Linked DNA regions of Homo sapiens: region 1 is linked to region 2. Evidence: fine-mapped expression QTL. A gene starts in region 2. The other region holds a variant in brackets. All regions are shown on one strand. Distances are from middle to middle. Region 1 overlaps BID (BH3 interacting domain death agonist). Region 2 holds the start of BID (BH3 interacting domain death agonist).

Evidence for each region. PIP is the estimated chance that this variant, and not a neighbour inherited with it, causes the effect.
Region 1: its variant is the best candidate, but not a certain one, in a credible set for the expression of BID in prostate (GTEx, PIP 0.69).

The regions. Positions count from the first base shown.
Region 1 is chr22:17,748,012-17,753,011 of GRCh38, forward strand. It overlaps BID (BH3 interacting domain death agonist), which reads right to left. Exons shown (of 6, transcript NM_001196.4): 2 at 2,094-2,163. The coding sequence starts at 2,105. Among named protein-coding and RNA genes, the nearest start is that of MIR3198-1, 14 kb to the right of the region's middle. RefSeq lists an enhancer at 2,164-2,708. The variant T/C (reference allele first, on the strand shown) is at 2,631.
Region 2 is chr22:17,772,416-17,777,894 of GRCh38, forward strand. It overlaps BID (BH3 interacting domain death agonist), which reads right to left and starts at 2,054. Exons shown (of 6, transcript NM_001196.4): 1 at 1,966-2,054. LINC00528 (long intergenic non-protein coding RNA 528) reads left to right here and starts at 4,875. Exons shown (of 1, transcript NR_103718.1): 1 at 4,875-5,479. RefSeq lists silencers at 1,563-1,892, 1,923-1,992, 2,013-2,062, 2,083-2,182 and an enhancer at 4,910-5,389.

The sequences.
Region 1 (5,000 bases), 25 kb before region 2:
CATCCTGGCTAACACGGTGAAACCCCGTCTTTACTAAAATATAAAAAATTAGCCGGGCGTGGTGGTGGGCGCCTGTAGTCCCAGCTACTCGAGAGGCTGAGGCAGGAGAATGGCATGAACTTGGGAGGCGGAGCTGGCAGTGAGCGGAGATCACATCACTGCACTCCAGCCTGGGCGACAGAGCAAAACTGCGTCTCAAAAAAATAATAATAATAAGGCCGGGCACGGTGGCTCACGCCTGTAATCCCAGCACTTTGGGAGGCCCAGACGGGCGGATCACGAGGTCAGGAGATCGAGACCATCCTGGCTAACACGGTGAAACCCCGTCTTTACTAAGATACAAAAAATGAGCCGGGCGTGGTGGCGGGCGCCTGTAGTCCCAGCTACTCGGGAGGCTGAGGCAGGAGAATGGCCTGAACCCGGGAGGCGGAGCCTGCAGTGAGCGGAGATCGTGCCACTGCACTCCAGCCTGGGCGACACAGAGACTCAATCTCAAAAAAAAAAATAAAAATAAAAAATAGAAGTATCTACACAGAATTAAAGTTATGATGGGAAAAAAGGCTGAACCCTATAATTGAAAAGAAAGTTTCGGAGTGTTTCGCTGTGACCCCAGCTCTGTGGCCCTGGGCGGGCTGCCGTACTGCTGCCTCCGCTTCCTCACTCCGAAGGCAAGAAAGGGGAGTGGCGACGTCCACCCTCCCTCACTGAGGGGGCCGGGGAGAGGCGGGCGGGAGGGCAGGCGCCTCCTCCGGCGAGTCAGGGCGCTGCGCGGGTGACGGTGGTGTTCTACCTGCGGAGGCCGCCAGAGCGCGAAGCCGGAACAGCAGCGGCAGGTGGGAAGGGACAGTGGCACCCAGAGTGGTCTTTTGGACACTGACAACAAGCCTGGATCAGGGCCGGGGGAGCTCCTGCAATCTCCTCTGTTTATGTAACTAACATCAAACTCGAGCCACTGCCTCAGCCCTCCAGCCACCACGCTGAAATCCACACCGTCCCCACCTTTGGAAAGGACCCCCAGTAGGGGCAGCTTGAGAACCTCCTGGGTGCCGGGTGCTCTCCATGCTCAGGAACTGCGACACAGTCACTAAGTGCCAAGGCATTAGACTTCGCAGATGCCTTCCCAGAGGCTGCCAGGACAGCGTGAGGCGCCCAGAGGCTGCAGAATTCGGCAGGAGGGAGGGGAGGAGGATGTGATGCAGCGGGTGGGAGAGAGCACCCGTGTGCTGTGATTTTTCTCTCCCCAGACCATTTAAAGGGAAGGAGAGACAAGGAAGCATCCAGGGAGCGTCCTGCTGAAGGCGGGGGCTCCGGGCTCCCCTCCCAGAACTCCACCGCTTTTATCTTTATAAAGACGGGGTCTTACTATGTTGCCCAGGTTTGTCTCAATCAAACTCCTGGCTTCAAGCAATCCTCTCGCTTCTGCCTCCCAAGTCACTGGGATTATGTGCCTAAGCCACCTCGCCCAGCTATGAAGGGAAATTTAAATCCAGTGGGTTAAAAAATTTTTGAAACACCTTACAGTTTACAGTACTTTTATTTGACCTTTATTGATTTATTTGCTCCTCATAGCAATGGCATTGGTTAGACAAGGTAAGTATTGTCTTGCTTTTACAGTTGAGAGAATTATATGAAGTGCTTATCTAATGCCCCCTTTCTTCTTCTTAAATCTCTTTCGTGTTTGTTTGGACAGGGCTGCAGTGCAGTGGCACAATCACAGCTCACTGTAGCCTCGACCTCCTGGCCTCAAGGAATCCTCCTGCCTTGGCCTCCCAAAGTGCTGGGACCCACAGCCTATGGCTGTTAAATGGTCTTAAACCCAAAGCCCCCTCGCCCTTGCAGTTAGCCCCAGGCGCGGTGTGGAGGGGCTGCACCACAAGCGGAGTGCGAGGAAGGCGCAGGACAGGGAAAGGTAGGACTTCCCGGCTCCCGCCTGCTTCAGTGAAGGGGCTGGGCGGGGTTCGTCTGTGCCGAGCTGTGGTAAGGGCCAGGCGGGCTCAGCCTCAGCCCTCAGGGATGCGTGGTGGGGGACACGCAGGCCCTTACCCCTCGACCCCGCCCCCCACAAGGCACCCGCAGGGGATCTGGCCTCTGACCTCACAGTCCATGGCCTGGGCAGCGCGGCAGCTCCGACTCACTCCTGGTTCACAGTGTCCCAGTGGCGACCTGGAAAGGGACACACAGAGTGGGCGGCCGCTCCTGGGAAGCCCTGGTCAGGACCCCTCGGGAGGACGACGAAGCTGGCCTGTGCTCCAGAAATGGCGGCTGAGCCGAGGTCCTGGCCTGAGCCCCGCATCCTGAGTTTCTTTCTCCTTGGCGGGAGCCAAGCTTTGTTTTCCTCATTCCAGATACTCACCCAGGCGCTCAGTGCCCTGGGGCCGACCCCGCACCTGAATTCAGCCCTCCCATGCCGCCCCAGGAAGACCTCAGGCATCAGGGAAACGGGGCCGTGGGCTCACAAATTATTTTATTATCATAAAATGTAAAATGTTTATAGAGAGAGAGAATGGATTTGACAATTAAAAAATTAAATCTTCCGGCTGGACGCAGTAGCTCATGCCTGTAATCCCAGCACTTTGGGAGGCCGAGGCGGGTGGATCATGAGGTCAGGAGATCGAGACCACCCTGGCTAA[T/C]GCGGTGAAACCCTGTCTCTACTAAAAATACAAAAAATTAGCCGGGCGTGGTGGCGGGCGCCTGTAGTCCCAGCTACTCGGGAGGCTGAGGCAGGAGAATGGCATGAACTTGGGAGGGAGAGGTTGCAGTAAGCCGAGATCACGCCACTGCACTCCAGCCTGGGCGACAGAGCGAGACTCCATCTCAAAAAGAATGACCAGTCTGGCCAACATGGTGAAACCCCATCTCTACAAAAATACAAAATTAGCCAGGTGTGGTGATGCAAGCCCTGTGGGCCCAGCTACTTGGGGGGCTGAAGCAGGAGGATCACTTACACCCAGGAGGTGGAGGCTGCAGTGAGCGGAGATTGCACCACTGCACTCCAGCCTGGGCGAGAGTGAAACCCTGTCTCGAAAAAAAAAAAAGATCTGTGCGGCATCAGTACAGTAAGCTGTCTTAAAAAGACTGAGGCCGGGCGCGGTGGCTCACGCCTGTAATCCCAGCACTTTGGGAGGCCGAGGCGGGTGGATCATGAGGTCAGGAGATCGAGACCATCCTGGCTAACAAGGTGAAACCCCGTCTCTACTAAAAATACAAAAAATTAGCCGGGCGCGGTGGCGGGCGCCTGTAGTCCCAGCTACTCGGGAGGCTGAGGCAGGAGAATGGCGTGAACCCGGGAAGCGGAGCTTGCAGTGAGCCGAGATTGCGCCACTGCAGTCCGCAGTCCGACCTGGGCGACAGAGCGAGACTCCGTCTCAAAAAAAAAAAAAAAGACTGAACACAAATTTCTACAGAACACTGTGAATAGAATAATCCTGTTTTAAAAAGTATTTGCCTGTGTGTGTGTGTGTGTGCGTGTGTGTGTGTAGACACAATATCAGGTTGAACCAAATGAAATGGCCATTTTGTAGGACAAAACCAAGCATTGGCAATTTCACATGGTTCCTGAATACATAGGAAATAAAAAGCAAACAGAGGAGAAAGCCTGTGCCCAGGCAGAGAGGAGGTGGCAGGAGGTAGCACTGACATGCGCATCACCCACCTCCCCACCTGGGGGCTCACACAGGCCTGGGGACCCTGCACTGTTGCAGGCTGCACCCTACTCTCCCTCTGGGGAGCCCAGGAGAAACCCTGGCTGTGTGTGGCCGTGCATTTCATAGGAAGGGACCAAGAGCAAATGACTGAGCTGCATGTGGACAGGGAGGCACCAGGATCTGGCTCCGGGGCCATCTGCCGGCTCCACAGCAGAGGAAGGGGAGTCTGCACCCACAAGAGACAAAGCGCAAGACAGACCCCACCCCAGGAAACAGGCCACAGAGGCCACGGCACCTCCCAGGGCCACTGCCCAGTCCACAGAACAGTGGACCAGACCCTAGCTTCTGCCTCAAGGTCTGGAATCCCCGCCCCTCACCACTTTGTTCTCCAAGGAACAACTTCAGGGGTCTCTGTGGGGAAAGTGCCCACTGTCACCTCTGAGCTCGGGAGGCAGCTCACAAAAACCAGCTTCCTTCACACTCAGATACACGCCCATGTCACAAGCAAACTGCAGCCACCTTGGCACTGTGGTGAGTCTCCCACCAGACCCTAACGCCGTGTCTCATGCAGTGTTTCTCTGCCAGGGCGACTTGGATACCCAGGAAATATCTGGAGCTGTCTGGAGACATTTATGGGGGGTGTGCTCCTGGCACGTAGCGGGTAGCAGTGGGGGCACGGCTCATCAGCTCAAACCCACAACTCATCCAGCTCAAAGTGTCACTAGTGCTCAGGGCCGAAGTCCCATACCAGTGTGTTCAAATACATAGCAAATACCACTAACCCATACCAGTGTCATATGCATGGCAGAATACCCACTAATCCAAACTGGTGTGTCACATACACAGCAGAATACCACTGACCCATACCGATGTTGTCACATCATGGAGGAATACCACTAACCCATGCTGGTGTGTCACATACACAGTGAATACCACTAACCCCAGTGTTGGGCATGTGAATAGCTTAGCATTGTCACCACTAAAGACAGGGCTGTGATGAGTACCCCAATGGGACATTTTTTTTTTTTGAGACGGAGTCTCACTGTGTCGCCCAGGCTGGAGTGCAGTGGCATGATCTTGGCTCACTGCATGCTCCACTTCCCGGGTTCCAGGGATTCTTCTGCCTCAGCCTCCCGAGTAGCTGGGACTACAGGTGCCCGCCACCACGCCCAGCTAACTTTTTGTATTTTTCGTACAGACGGGGTTTCACCGTGTTAGCCAGGATGGTCTGGATCTCCTGACCTCGTGATCCGCCCGTCTTGGCCTCCCGAAGTGCTGGGATTACAGGCATGAGCCACCGCGCCCAGTCTTTTTTTTTTTTTTTTTTTTGAGATGGAGTCTCGCTCTGTCACCCAG
Region 2 (5,479 bases):
ACCAGATGTCAACGACAGGAAGCATTTCCAGAGGCCACAGCTCTGCAGGGAGGTCTCTCATGGGCTGACAGCCAGAGCCAGCGCTCCGGGTCCCCTGAAAAAACGGGCACAGTCCTCGGTCACGTCGAGGACCTGCTCAGCCCCTCCACTTGGCACCGGAGAGAGGATGACTCACGGCCCTTCTGCCTGGAAGGCAGGCTCCAGTGTCAAATGTCCATCCGCCTCCATCACCCTCATCCATCCTTGTCAGTCCAGGGGCCTGGGCACTGCTGGGGCTCCTGGGCAGACAGTTCCCCCTTGCAAATGAGTGGGACCCTCAGCTCCTTCGATCAGCATCCTCACGTCAGCCGAGCCTGTGAGCACCCCTAAGCAAGGCCTCTGAGCTGGGCATGCGACACCCCTTCCCACCCAGGCACCCTCCCCCTAGAATCCCCCATACCACCCTGGGGCCATGCCCCGCTTCCCTCTCTGGCAAGCTCCTGCACAACCTTGAGACCACCTGACAGCCACCGTCTATCCTGCCCAACCTCCTCAGAAGCACTAACAGCACCTCGCCCCAGCCACGGCAGGTCTCTGCACCCCTCGTCTCAGTCACCACTCTCACATCTCATGAACAGAGACACGAGCTGCTTCCTCATGCTCCCTGTGCCCGTCCTGGGAGATCCCTGCCTTTAAACCCCAGCCACGAACTGCTGACCCCGCATTTCCTCTTCCCTCCCTGGGCAAGAGGGGCAGAAGGGGCAGGGACGCACACCCTGGGCCGCAGGCAGAGGCTTGGCCAGGGTCGTCCTCCCGGCAGTGCCTCCCTGGAGCTCTGTCTACCTCAACTCCTGATGCCAGAGGATCCCTCTGCGCTCCCCACACCCTTAAGACCCCAGCTCAGGGAATCTGGTCTCGGTCATCACTCCCAGGGGACTGCAGGGCCCCAGGACGGCACACATTCAGGCCCAGGAGAGCTCCCCCCATCTCAAAGCCTCCTGTGGGTGGAGATGGAATGTGGAAAAACCGCATCCTCTGCAGCTCCCCCACAGTGAGAGCGAGGACTGAGGGTGTGGATAAGGCTCCAGGAAGGGGGTGCAAGCCTGAGAAGGTGGAAGAGCTCTGGGTGGGTCCATCTGCTCCTCACCTGCCCCAACCCTGCCTGCAGGTGAAGGCCGGTCCAGCCGCAGAAGGCCCAGCCCCCAGCCCACTTACAGAATCCGCACTGTGCTCCTCCAGCCGGCCCGGCCCCTCGCTGCCCACCGAGCCATCATGACCCCAGCACCGCTGCACATTCGTATTTGTTGAATGAATGAATGAACCCTTGCCAGCCCAGCCACTTGGTGGCTGAGGGCTTCAGAGCTCTCCCAGGGTCCCCTGGGGTCATTCAGCCACTCAACAGTTTCCCAGCAGCAGCAGCGAGGATCCGCACATCATTGCCAGTGCTCTAAGGAGCGGGCGAGCCCCAGTAAGCGGCCGCTCTGACCGCGCTTTGTCAGCCCTGAGCTCCGCTCGGGAGGAGCCGGCAGGTGTCTGCGGTGCTGGAAAGACCACGGTGTGGGCGGGGATTCCGATCCGCCGGCAAGGGTGGCCTGCACCCGGCCAGGCCCGCGGGTTTTCTCCTCTCCGGGGCTGGCCTCGGCCCCTCCCCCTCCCCGCGCCCCGCACCCCTCCCCTGAATCCCCAGGCCACGTGGAGAGGACACAACAAAGCCTTCCCCGCCTCCGAGGCGGACCCGACCCTCAGCACCGACCTGCCGGCCGCGCCGAGGAGGGCGCCCGGGCGGAGGGGAGGCGGGAGAGACCCGGCCCTCAGGTCGCTGCTGAGGCCTGGGGCTCTGACCCCCCGCCTCCCCTCCTCTGGCTCCCACCGCGGTCGGGCCCAGGGCGGGCGGCGGGCCCTGAGCTCCACGCCGGGGCAGGCGGCAGGCAGGGGTCACGGGCTGGGGCTCGGCGCGTACCCCGGGAGGGGCGCGGGTGCACTCACCACCCTCCAGCCGCGGGGGCGCGGGCGCGTCCGGGCCGAGGCAGCGTCTCCCAGGCGCGCGGACACGGTCGACTACCCGCTTCCTCCTTATGGCGCCCCGCGCGCTTCCTCCTTCGGCCCCCCACGCCCGGGCCCGCCCCGGCCCGCCCCGGCCCGCCCCCGGCGGCTTGCGGGGACCCGGGGAGCCCGCGCCGGCGCGGGGCTGTGGAGCGGGGCGGGGAGCCGGCAGCGCAGTGAGAACCAGGCTTTCCACCCTTACCCCTTACGCGACTGTTTCAGACAGTGTCGTCCAACTTTAAGTTGGCCACTTACTCCAGCGCCGCTGGGATAATTCCTAATGATTCTCTGGGAAACATTCAGAATCCCCAGGCTGTTTCTGGAACAGTCTGGGGTGGTCATTCTAGGTCCTCACGGAACCAGGGGTTTGGAAAGTGGGTGAAGCCATGTGGGTTGCAGAGAATCTGGCCCAGCCCCTCACCAGTCCCTGTGCTTGTTGTTTATTCTTTAATTATTTGGATATCAACTCTGATTTAAAACATCAGTTTAACATATAGATAATGCTGGGACTACAGGCGCACACCACACCCAACTAATTTCTTTTTCAGTTTTTAGTGGAGGTGGTGGGGGGGGGGTCTCCACCTCTGGAGGTCTCAGGCTGGTCTCGAACTCCTGGGCTCCAGCGATGCTTCCCACCTCGGCCTCCCAAGGTGCTGGAATGACAGGCCAGTCCATGCATCCCCGGATGCAGCTCTCACCGGCAGTGCTGCTGCAGAGCCCTTTGTGGGCGTCTTCACTTCTCTTGAGTGTGATACCTAGGAGTGGAAATGCGAATCATAGGGCTGGACGAGCTTCATGGTATTAAAAACTGCCTGCTTTCCAAGGTGATGCACACCGTTCGGCACTTCCACCAGCCCTGTTGGAGCGTCCAGTTGCTCTGCGCCCTCGCGTGGGCTCACTCCCTGAGCCCACTGTGGCTCCTCCAGACGCCCTCACTTCTACCCGGGCTCCCTAGACTCTTGCCTCTTTTATAAAAGGTCAGAGGATGTCACTCACGCTTTAACATCCTCTGAATAAAAGCCAAGTTCCTTTCAGTGGCCCGCAGAGTCCCACGCGACCTGCCCTGCTCTAAGCAAATCCTACCCTGTCCCTGTTCCTCCTCGGCAGCCCCATGGCCTCTGGCTTTCACCAGGCCTCACTTCATTTTCCTCCACAGCCAGCATCGCAGCATGACATACCACGGAGTCGTTTGTGTGTGTGTTGCCTACCTCCCCTCTCGGAATGTAGCCTCCACGAGGACAGGGGCTTGTTTCCTGCATGCTCTTCACTCGGGCTGGGCACTCTGGGGGGCTAACAAATGGAAGATCCTGTGAGCAGGGAAACCGTCAGATGGCATTAGGGGCCGGTGCCCTGCAGAAGACGAAAGGGAAACTTCATGGACTGAGGCCAGGTCATCTGCAGGGTGGTGTTCAAATTCATGGTACAATGTCAGCAGGCGCCCAGATGGGAAAAGAGAGGGACGTGCACCTGGGCACAAGAAGCTGCAGGGGCCCCTCCCAGGGCAGGCGAGAGCTTGGACAGTGGGGCACAGTGGGCAAGAGGCCAGTGGGGTGGCCTGAAGGCAGGAGGCTCCAGCAGCCTGGATGAGCAGTTGGATTTTATCCTCAGCACTGTGGGGGCCACTGGCCCTGTCATGCAGGGCAGGACCTGTACCAATTGGCCCCCACAGTCTCTGCCTCTCCTGTTGGCTTTTTGCAGGTCTCTCAAGTGCTTCTTACAGTCAGGGTAGAGCCTCCCCGCCTCAATCCTCCCTGTCCTGATCTGCTGCCTCTATGATGCTTTGGGCTTCAAAATCTGTCTGCAGTATTTGTAAAATGAGAGAGGGTGATGTTTCCTGCAAAACAACCACTTCAAAAAGAAAGGGGGGCGGGGTGCCAGAAAACAATTCAGGGGGTGACGGACTGGGGGGCTATGGAAGGGTCCAGGGAAATTCCGGGGATGATGGGATTCTTCTATACAGGGATTGTGGTGGATGCCACACAATTGTACACTTTTGTGAGAACTCTGCACGAAGAATGGTGAGTTTTACTGTATGTAAAATTATACCTTAATTAACAAATGAAACAATATACACATACATGAGAGAATGATGACTTTATTTTTTTTTTTGAAACAGGATCTAGCTCTGTCACCCATGCTGGAGTGCAGTGGTGTGATCACAGCTCACTGCAGCCTTGACCTCCCAGGCTCGAGTGATCCTCCTGCCTCAGCCTCCCAAGTATCTGGGACTGCAGGCATGCACCGCCACGCCTGGCTAATTTTTTAAAAATTTTTTTTAGACGGAGTCTGGCTGTGTCACCCATGCTGGAGTGCAATGGTGTGATTTCCGCTCACTGCAACTTCTGCCTCCCGGGTTCAAGTGATTCTCCAGCCTCAGCCTCCCAAGTAGCTGGGATTACAGGCACCCACCACCATGATTGGCTGGCTAATTTTTGTATTTTTAGTAGAGACGGGGTTTCACCATATTGGCCAGGCTGTTCTCGAACTCCTGACCTCAGGTGATCTGCCCGCCTCAGACTCCCAGAGTGCTGGGATTACAGGCGTGTGCCACCACACCTGGCCTTTTTTTTTTTTTTTTTTTTTTTTTTTTGGGACAGGGTCTTGCTATGTTCCCCAGGCTGGTCTTGAACTCCTGGGCTCAAGTAATCCTCCCACCTCGGCCTCCCAAAGTGCTGGGGTTACAGGCATGAACCACTGCACCCGACCTGAATGATGTTTTTGGCAATGAAAATGAAACACAAAATCCAGCAAGGTTTGACGGGGAAGGCGAGCTGGCGACCACATAGTCACAGTCGGCCTTTGCTTCCGCTTTATGCTGCAGTTTCTCACTGTCACTTCCTGCCACCGGGCTCGTCTTCCTGTGAAAATTCAGCCCCTCTTCCTCAGTTACCCCTTTGCAACAGAACGAGGCCGGCATTTTCTAAAGCGTCCTTGAGGAGTCCAGTTCCTAAAAGATTATTTCAGAGTCCACTGTTGTGGGCTGACTTGAATGCTCTCAAAATTCGTAAGTTGAAGCCCTGACCCCCAGGACCTCAGAACGTGACTGTGCTTGGACACAGGGACTTTCCAGAGGTGATTAAGGTGAAGTGAGGTCACTGGATGGCCCTCCTCCTATCTGACTGGTGTCCTGATGGGGACGCGGACACCCACACAGGAACGGACCCGGGGAGAACAACACATCGTCTCTGCGCCAGGGAGAGAGGCGTCCGGGGAACCCAGCCGTGCCCACGCATTTATCTCCGCCTTCCGGCTCAGAATTGTGAGGAAACCCGCTTCTGTTGTGCAAGTCCCGGGTCTGTGGTGCTCGGCCATGGCGCCCCCAGAACTGCATCCCCACCTTCTGCTCTGAGCCACCCATCCCCTCTGGAAGGGCTGAGCTTCTCTCCCTTTCCACCTTCTGTTCTGAGCCACCCGTCCCCTCCAGAAGGGCTGAGCTTCTCTCTCTTTCACTGCCTAT